Regions from separate parts of the Homo sapiens genome. Here regions 1 and 3 are each reported to be linked to region 2. The links are microRNA targets in miRTarBase. Many come from high-throughput screens and were not tested one by one. Region 2 holds a microRNA gene; each other region holds the end of a gene's coding sequence.
What was found. The annotated mature microRNA hsa-miR-6795-3p reads ACCCCUCGUUUCUUCCCCCAG and lies in region 2 at 2,471-2,491, opposite strand. An mRNA with a match to its seed (bases 2 to 7 or 8) in the 3' UTR can be bound and repressed. Matches are read on the target gene's strand: a 7mer-m8 pairs with bases 2 to 8, a 7mer-A1 pairs with bases 2 to 7 and ends in A, and an 8mer does both.

Region 1 (3,257 bases), not on the chromosome of region 2:
AGAATGTTGAAATGTTAATAGTGAGATCAATCAATGACAAGAAACTGTATCTTCCTCAGGAAAAAGAAACTAACCACTATACAATAAAGGCAATGACTGGAAACCCTAAATTACGTTTTGTTGTCAACAAAGTCAATTTAATTTAATAATTTAACTTTTCCACAGAATTAATCACTATTACTTCCATACCAAAGAGGTATCGGGGAAAGAGTAGATCTATGAGGATTTAAAATTATTTCCTATCTACTTCTTACTTTTAAGTTGTGGTGATTCATGGCTGTGATAAAGATTGTAATTTTCAAGAAACATACAAAAAATCCATGTTAAATAACAACAGTGGACCTTGAAGGCATGAGCTTTTGTCACTTTATTGTTAACCAATGAATATTATCCAAAATTAGAGATGTAATTGTAACTTAATTGTACAACACAAAATTATGCTAATGGTAAAAGCCTACTGGGATTTACCAAATACTCATTAGTGTATTTTTACATTGACTATATGAACATGTGCTCGCGACTGCTAATAAGTTATAATTGGTTTAATCTCTAAGAAATCCATATTGCAAATGGTTCTTGTTTAGAAAAATTCACACAGCCTTAAAAATGGATTAAATCCATTTTAATCCTAATCTACAAATAGATCATAAACAGCAAAATATAACTGATAATTTTTCAATACTGTATCAAACTGATGTAGCTATGGTAGTGCACATAATTCAAAATGAGGAAAATTAACAAAAATCCAATGAAAGTTCAGGTTTTTATCTATTATGCAATTGCTTTAAAGTGAACATTTATGTCTCAAAACATGAATAGTAGGGTCCACCATCCATTCCTTTGATGTACTGCAAGTAGGAATATTCTCTTCCATAGGATTCTGAAGCATGTGCACAACCATGGTACAACAGTCACTTCAAGGTTAACCAGCTATGTTTTGTCCTACAAAGTTCAAAAAATATATTAAACGCAACCTTTCTTTTACATAATGTCTGCCCAGATTAATCCTTTTAAAGTCAGCAAAATCAAAAAAGCACAAGAGATATTTTCAGACACAACTTGAATCTACTGTGCATGAAAATGTTTAATAAAATGGCAATTTTAATAGATAAATGTAAATTTGACTGTGTAATACCAAATGGAAAGTAGCTGAACCACACAGAGAAAACAAGGCTTTACGTATCTCCAAATTTAGCTGTTTTACAATAAACAAAGTATTAGAACATGTGAATATTAGAACCTCCTTCTAACTGGAAAGATTTCTTCAGTAAGCTATAACCGAAATTAATATAAACTAAAATTATAATTTCTAAAATAAGAATTAACAAACCAAATTTAAGTATTTTTAGTCAGAGATTGAAACAAAATAAGCACAGTGATCTAGAAACCAAATATACTGATTATGTAACTATCGTATCAAGGTACAGACATTCTTCACATGCTACAAGGTTAGCATTTCTCTCTCTCATACACACACAGAGTACACACACACACACACACACACACACACACAGTCTCTCTCTCATTCTCTCTCTCTCTTGCTCAGCCATACAACACCCCTCCAGGATGATAGTATACCAGTGAGGAGCTTACAATTTTAATACAAATCAGAATCCCACAGTTTGACTCGACAAAAAGGCAGTTAAAAATTTAGCACTCTTAAGATATTCTGAAGGAAAATGAAATTTCGAAAGTATTTCTTGATGATCGAGGCTATGGTTATGAATTATAAAACATATACCTTACACACTCCATTGTGTTTGAACAACCAGTCATCACAGATGTAGTAGTGAGGTAGTATTGTTGTCCCCTCCTCGGGACTGATGTTTTTATATGCTGCCCTTCCAGAAAAGGTCCAGGTTTTAAAAAATAACATTAGTTACCAACAAATGTATATTTTCTTTTTTTAACTAATCATTTGTTTTTCTAAATCAGTCTATAAAAGAACAAAACTTTTAAAATCTTGCAGAGGCTGTTTCATCAGTAAACTCTCCTAGGGAGCTACTACTGCTGTCTAAACCTCTGTGAAATGGTAGGCAAAAAAAGCCATCAAAGGATCACAGGAGATAAAACACCAATCAGTGTAAGCTGTTAAAGATGACTGTGATTAAATAACCAAATATCAAATATCCAATAAGGTAATTAAATTTAGATTAAAAAAAAACTAAGCACCAGCTGTACATACATTATTAAATGTTCTAATCTCTTTCCTGATTCATAGCCATATTCTACATGATGATCAAAGACTGTCCACTGTGCTACCTACCATCATTTTAAACACTGCCTGATCTGTATGATGGTGGAATTATGGCTATGGACATGGCAGATAAGAGAAGGGCACACTGAGAAAATGTGAGTGAGAGAGAATGTGGAAATAGGTTAAATATGGAAAGGGCAAGGGAAACCCATTAAAATGTTCACCATTATCCTTTAAAATGTACACAGAACTGAAACCACACATACACATTTGTCAGACGTGATAATTAGTGTTAATCTTCAACAGAAAAAAAAAAGAAAAAGAAAAAAAATGTGAAAAGAGGCAATGGAACACCATTCTCCATTCCCTGGACCAAAAGAAAAAAGAAAACCAAGCATGATATCATACTGCCTTAATGTTGAAGAGCTCCCCTTAAATTTGTCTTTTAGCTAGCACAGTCAAACTGGTGTAAGTGCTTTGGCAAGGTGGGATGCATTCCATCATATCTGCAAAGGCCTGCTTTTCTCTGTTGGTGGTTCAGCTTATGAAGAACATATATGCAAAATAACAGCTCTCACATTGCTTCAAACTCATCGATACGCTGCTTTGTATTGCCTTGTCGAATCTGTCGCAGAGTCTTGTACTTATCACGGCCTGCTTTAACATTCTCAGCATGAAGAACATCATTTTGTGTTTTCTTGGTTTCATCTCTGGCTTGGGCTAATTCTGAACTTAATGCCTATTTAAAAAATAAAAAGTACAACTATTATTTTTTTCTTAGATTTAAAAAAATTTATGAAAATGGCTTTAAGATGCAAAAATACATATACCAAATCATTTCCACTGTGAAACCTTTTTCTTTAGGTATAAGTTTGTTTTAGTAATAGTGGTGGCAGTGGTAAGGGAGGAATACACATGGCCTTTCCACATTTATCAACCATGGTATTTTGTACATTATTCTAAATTTCCTTAACTTTCTAATCTAATACTTGAAATGGCTAAAAAGTTCAATGTAGCCATTACAGACTAATATTACTATGAGATTTAAAATCTATACCTC
Region 2 (3,222 bases):
CTGTAATCCCAGCACTTTGGGAGGCCAAGGCGGGCGGATCACAAGGTCAGGAGTTCGTGAGCAGCCTGGCCAATATGGTGAAACCCTGTCTCTACTAAAAATACAAAAAAAAAGCCAGGCGTGGTGGCAGGTACCTGTAGTCCCAGCTACTCGGAAGGCTGAGGCAGGAGAATCGCTTGAACCCGGGAGGCGGAGGTTGCAGTGAGCCAAGATGGAGCCATTGCACTCCAGTCTGGGCAAGAGAGCGAGACTCCGTCTTAAAAAAAAAAAAAAAAAAAAAAAGGAATTCGGCTGGGCACGGTGGCTCACACCTGTAATCCCAGCTACTCCAGAGGCTGAGGCAGGAGTACTGCTTAAACCCGGGAGGCAGAGGTTGCAGTGAGCCGAGATCGCGCCACTGCACTCTAGCCTGGGCCACAGAGCAAGACTCCATCTCGGGAAAAAAAAAAAAAAGTAATTATTGGATGGAGAAAAGGGCAGACAAACGGGGCAGAGAAGTGCATAGGCAGATAGAAACAAGAACAAGATAGACAGAGCACATGGATGAACAGACACACGGACAGACACGTGGGACACACCGATGGGCAGATAGAGTGCACAGAGAAACAGACGGGGCAAGTGGATGGGCAGGTGGAAAGAGAGGCAGGGCCCACGGACAAACAGACTGGGATGGATGCATAGACAGACGGATCGATCGGGTGGATGGGCTCACTTGCAAGTGCGCTCGCGGCCACCGGCGTGGCAGTCGAAGTTGTCGTAGAGGCAGGCGGGCGAGCTGCAGGCGGGGTCGCAGCGGCTGTTGTTGAAGAGGCGCCAGCACTGCAGCGCCTCGCATTGCCGCCAGGGGTCGCCCACGCTCAGCGAGCAGTCGCCGCCGTCCCAGCCGCAGCCTGGGCTGTTGCACTCGCGGTCGCAGCGCTGGTCCCCGCGCTTGGCCTGGCAGGCGGCGCGCGGGCACCGCGGCTCCTCCGAGACCTCGGGTGCCGCGGCGGGCGCCTCGCAGCGCGGCCCGGTCCAGCCCTGCGCGCAAGCGCAGCGGAAGAAGGGCGCGAGCGGCGCGGGGCGGCAGGAGCCCCCGTGGAGACAGGGGGCGGCCGCGCAGCTGGCGTTGCTGGCCCCCGGCGGCGACCCCGGGAAGCTGCGGCAGGAGGGTCCCGACAACCCTGGGGGGCAGGCGCAGCGCGGCCCGCGGGGCGTCTGCTGGCATGGGACGCCCACCGGGCACTGCAGCTCCCGGCAGGAGCGCGCCACCCGCTCGCAACGCGGACCCCAGAACGGCTGGGGGTCGGGTTTGGGGAGGGAGGGATAAAAATGAGGGTGGGGAGTGGAGGGAAGGAGGAGAAGAAATGGAGGAGTGGGGAAAAGAAGAGTCAAGGGGAGAGAGGGGGAAGAGAAGAGGTCAAGACTAAGGAAGGTTGAGACCCCCTCAACCTCCCCATGTCCCACCCAACCGCTCCCCTTTCCACACTGGAGACCCCACCTGGCAGATAAGCCCTGCCATCCCAGGAGGCCACGCCCCCCAATCACCATCCTCACCCTTTTCCCTTCAAACCTCCAGGAAATGTCGGGGCAGGGGGTTGTTTCTTTGTTTTTTGAGACGGAGTGTCACTCAGTCGCCAGGCTGGAGTGCAATGGCGTGATGGCTCACTGCAACCTCCGCCTCCCGGGTTCAAGTGATTCTCCTGCCTCAGCCTCCCGAGTAGCTGGGATTACAGGCAGCTGCCACTACGCCCGGCTAATTTTTATATTTTTAGTAGAGACGGGGTTTCACCATGTTGCCCAGGCTGGTCTCTAACTCCTGGCCTCAAGTGATCCTCCCGCCTCGGCCTCCCAATGTGCTGGGATTACAGGTGTGAGCTACCACACCCGGCGGAAATGTCAGCATTTTCCAGAAACTCCCTTCCCTTCGATGTCTCCCCTAAAGCCACATCCTCCTCCTAGACGCCACGCCCCTACTACTCCAGAGGCCACGCCCCTACTCCTCCTCCAAAGGCCGCCACCCACACCTACCTGGGCACAGTGACAGGTGAAGGTCAGCCCACCCCCAGGACCCGGGCTAGGACGGCACTGGCCTCCATGCTGGCATGGCTGGGACTCGCAGGGAGACAGGACAGTCTGACAGCGAGGACCTGAGCGAGCGGGAGCATGTAGATCAGCCACAATGGGGGAATGACAGGCGGGGTCCCAGGCCAGCCCCTTCGCCAACGCTTACCTGAGAAGCCAGCATGACAAAGGCAACGGAAACCTCCGCCTGGGTCCTGCAGGCAGTCCCGGGTGTGTGCCGCGTGGCAGGCACCTGAGCGACACTCATTGATGTCTGCCTCGCAGCGCAAACCAGTGTATCCTGGGGGACAGGTGCAGCGGAAACCACCCACCAGGTCCACGCAGGTGCCATTGTGTAGGCACCGGGGCCCTGAGTCCAGCGGTGGGCCTGGGCCGCAGTCATCCTCATTAATCTCGCAGAGCACCCCTGGGGGAAGAAACGAGGGGTGGTCAAGAGGGAATGAAGACAGCCTCTCATCCTGTCCCCCCAACCCTGGCCCTGGCATACCCAGCGTTCCTGGGGGACAGGAGCAGAGATAGCGGGCCACGAGGTCAATGCATGAACCCCCGTGCTGGCAGGGCTGGGAGGCACACTCGTCCACGTCGTCCTCACAGTTATCACCATTGTAGCCAGGAAGACACTTCAGTGGGGTAAGAGAGGGACCCACTCAGCTTAGTGGGACACAGACCCACCTGGACATACCCATGAAGACGCAAAGAACCCCAGCACAAAAGGACACACACAGATGTTCAGCGCACTACCAGTAGGTAATCCCAGCACTTTGGGAGGCCGAGGTGGGCAGATCACCTGAGATCAGGAGTTCGAGACCAGCCTGGCCAACATGGTGAAACCCTGTCACTATGAAAAATACAAAAATTAGCTGGGCGTGGTGGTGGGTGCCTGTACTCCCAGCTATAATGAGAGGCTGAAGCAGAAGAATCACCTGAACCCAGGAGGCAAAGGTTGCAGTGAGCTGAGATCGCGCCACTGCACTCGTCTGGGTGACAGAGTGAGAACCTGTCTCAAAAAAACAAACAAATAAAAAAACACCCCAGATCTACCCAGAGTGACACCCACAGATACACCAAGAGTCACAAAAGCAAAAACTCAGACATATCTAGAGACATACCCATACCAAGCCACACAGAAATGTGTGCCCAGACGCACCCAAGCATGCC
Region 3 (3,257 bases), not on the chromosome of region 2:
GAGGATCTGAACTATTTTAGGTTTAAAAGCCCATGATCAGGGATATTAATTGCAGCCATAAATAAACTGCTGAGGCCAAATAAACAACTGCATTCCTATAATCGCTGCCAAAAACACTGCATACATCCTCAAACATTGAGACAAAGGATGGCAGACAGGTTTCAACTCTAATTGTTAAGTGGCTGCCTCCAACAGAATATTGAGACTGGGGAACAATGTGGGGCAGGTTTCAACTCTAATTGTTACGTGGCTGCCTCCAACAGAATATTGAGACTGGGGAACAAAGTGGGGCAGGTTTCAACTCTAATTGTTACGTGGCTGCCTCCAACAGAATATTGAGACTGGGGAACAATGTGGGGCAGGTTTCAACTCTAATTGTTACGTGGCTGCCTCCAACAGAATATTGAGACTGGGGAACAACGTGGGGCAGGTTTCAACTCTAATTGTTATGTGGCTGCCTCCAACAGTATATTGAGACTGGGGAACAACGTGGGGCAGGTTTCAACTCTAATTGTTACGTGGCTGCCTCCAACAGTATATTGAGACTGGGGAACAACGTGGGGCAGGTTTCAACTCTAATTGTTACGTGGCTGCCTCCAACAGAATATTGAGACTGGGGAACAACGTGGGGCTTGATGTCAAAGAGAACTCAGAAGGATTATAAAAGCCTGTCGTGGGCACAAGAATGTGGTACCTTGTGCTACTCTTGGCTTCAGCATTAAGCTGACAAAGACTTCCTACTGCAATACCTGACTTTCGTTTCTATTATGAACACGATATTTCACTGTTGTTTCTCATCAAAAGCACCTGATGTCAATGTATCAAAATACAGAGATCATGAAATTCTTTTTTGCTATGTCCGACAAAATGAACAAGAAACTGAATACCAGTTTTCTAGATGCACTAATAAATAACTTCAGTTAAAATAACTAGAGTTACATTTTTTCAAATGCTCTTATTCATCTGGAAAATTCAGTGTTATATATAAATGTTACATATACATATGTGTGTATATATATATACTGTTTTAGGAGAAAACAGCATTTCAGTTTGATATTTTAAATGCCAATTATGCACATTTATAATAGTAAGATTTCCCATTAAGTGAAACGTTATAGTTACCTATAAACGTTCATTTTTCACTATTTACAATTTGAATTATGTAATACTTGCATACTGCAACTAATTGTTATAGAAGAGTCACATAGACAATATAAATCTGATGTCCAATCCTTTACAAATACGAAATTTGTTTCACTGGGTTTTCAAACTATCAAGTATAAATAGGAAAAGGTCAGCAATACTTAGGATGAGGCACTTTAACAATTACTCAGAAAGGTTAAGTGTACAAAACTGTAAACCAAAACCCTGCATATTAATCTTATCCTTAATTTCAGATGTGATTAATCTGAGATGGTCTATTTAAGGAGTGTTAAGATCATCACAGACCAGTTAATGTGCCCATATACAAATGAACTAAACTATCTAATGACACTTGGGTTTCAGAAAGGGACTCTTTCAACACTAAAACTTCTGTAGAATTTTTTCATAAACAAGTATAAACACACTGCTCTCACAAAGGCAAATGGTATCTCTACCATATTCCTAGACAAGAATGCCCTCAAATGTTTAACTGAATCACAATTTTACAGTCTTATGTACTCTTTAAAAATAGTTTTCAAAATACTCAGAAATTTTAAAATTAAAACTACCAATACTTTTTAGATTACAATTTTAAGATAAAAAAGGTAACGAATAGGTATTTTACCAGCCTTTTGTGAAAGACCTTTTAAACATTTCTATTTGAGCACCTCATTTTCAACCTTAAATCATGTTCTCTGTATATTTACACTGCACGTTTTGGTAGTTCAGGTAATAAATACTTGATTAAGGGTAATAATTCCCTTTTTTTTTTGGAGACGGAGTTTTGCTCTTGTCGCTCAGGCTGGGGCGCAATGGCGCAATCTCAGCTCACTGCAACCTCTGCCTCCCGGGTTCAGCCGATTCTTCTGTCTCAGCCTCCCAAGTAGCTGGGATTACAGACACCCGCCACCATGCCTGGCTAATTTTTGTATTTTTAGTAGAGACGAGGTTTCACCATGTTGGCCAAGCTGGACTCGAACTCCTGACCTCTGGTGATTCGCCCGCCTTGGCCTCCCAAAGTACTGGGATTACAGACATTAGCCACCACACCTGGCCAATTCCTGTTTTCTGAATTCACTATGCTGTATTTTTTCCCCAACTGTCTGATTTCCACATTCTTCTATTAGTTAAAAAAAAAAAAAAAAAAAAAAAGGCTGACTCAAATTTTAAAGTTTACCAGAAGAGATTAAAATCTTGATATATACCAAGAAAGAATCTGTGGACCCATTAGCTAAGTTTTAGGTAAGAGTAGCTAAATCTCATTAAACCTGTTTATTTCTTCTAATTTATAATTTGAGTAATTTCCATAGCTCAGATATACAAATGTCCTTTAATAAAAATGCAGTAATAATTTAACATGGTTAGCTGTTCCAGGTTCACTTATCAAAATAACTTGCCATGAATGTGTACACATGTACTTCTTAATTCCCTAGAACAGTTTCTCCTTTTCTAAAGAAACTGGCTTTCAATCAATATACTACCAGACACTTAAGTCTCTACTAAAATCAGAAGTTAACCAGTTTTCAAATACATGGAAAGAGAAAATACTGATTTAGAAAGACAAAAATTAAGCTTGGCAAAAGTGGTGACTTTTATTTACAATTGCATGTGTCAAGATTACAATGGAAACACTAGTGATACCATCTGAACAAAAGCAATGATTTATTGGTAATGGCAATGAATGAAACATTGACAGTCTCTGGCGAGAATCAAGCAATTATCCAGGAGCTGTAGATCTGATTGCAATATGGTTGTCCAGTGTCTTTTGTACCTTAGTGGCTTTCTCCTTTTTTGCCAACTACCTAGAAAAACAAAAATAAGTTTATATGTACATCCTATTGATTTTAAATATGAGTTATTAAAAATACTAATAATCAGTTTAAAACCTTGGTATTAATTTTTATCCTTGGATCTTTTCTGGCATGCAATGTATTTTCACTGTTGAAGCAAACTGTGACCTCCCCTCCAATCCCAGCCACAAGGAATTAAAAATAAAACACATGCAGGCTATTTTTGGTTTCACACAGTTTTTTTTTTTTTTTTAAATAGCAATTTTTAAAAACAAGGTTGAAAGTTTAGAGAAGTTAATTTAAAAAATGATGCTATATGAGTAA

Region 1: the mRNA of RDX is a reported target of hsa-miR-6795-3p. Seed matches in the 3' UTR shown: 7mer-A1 at 1,807-1,813.
Region 3: miRTarBase lists TXNL1 as a target of hsa-miR-6795-3p. The part of its 3' UTR that is shown has no 7-base or 8-base seed match.

Annotation. Positions count from the first base shown.
Region 1 is chr11:110,229,098-110,232,354 of GRCh38, forward strand. It overlaps RDX (radixin), which reads right to left. Exons shown (of 14, transcript NM_002906.4): 14 at 344-2,936. The coding sequence ends at 2,772. Among named protein-coding and RNA genes, the nearest start is that of RDX, 66 kb to the right of the region's middle.
Region 2 is chr19:15,176,813-15,180,034 of GRCh38, forward strand. MIR6795 (microRNA 6795) reads right to left here and starts at 2,538; the gene lies at 2,471-2,538. NOTCH3 (notch receptor 3) reads right to left here. Exons shown (of 33, transcript NM_000435.3): 21 at 2,552-2,684; 22 at 2,213-2,470; 23 at 2,011-2,129; 24 at 713-1,278. RefSeq lists a silencer at 833-1,002.
Region 3 is chr18:56,600,112-56,603,368 of GRCh38, forward strand. TXNL1 (thioredoxin like 1) reads right to left here. Exons shown (of 8, transcript NM_004786.3): 8 at 1-2,945. The coding sequence ends at 2,916. Among named protein-coding and RNA genes, the nearest start is that of TXNL1, 37 kb to the right of the region's middle.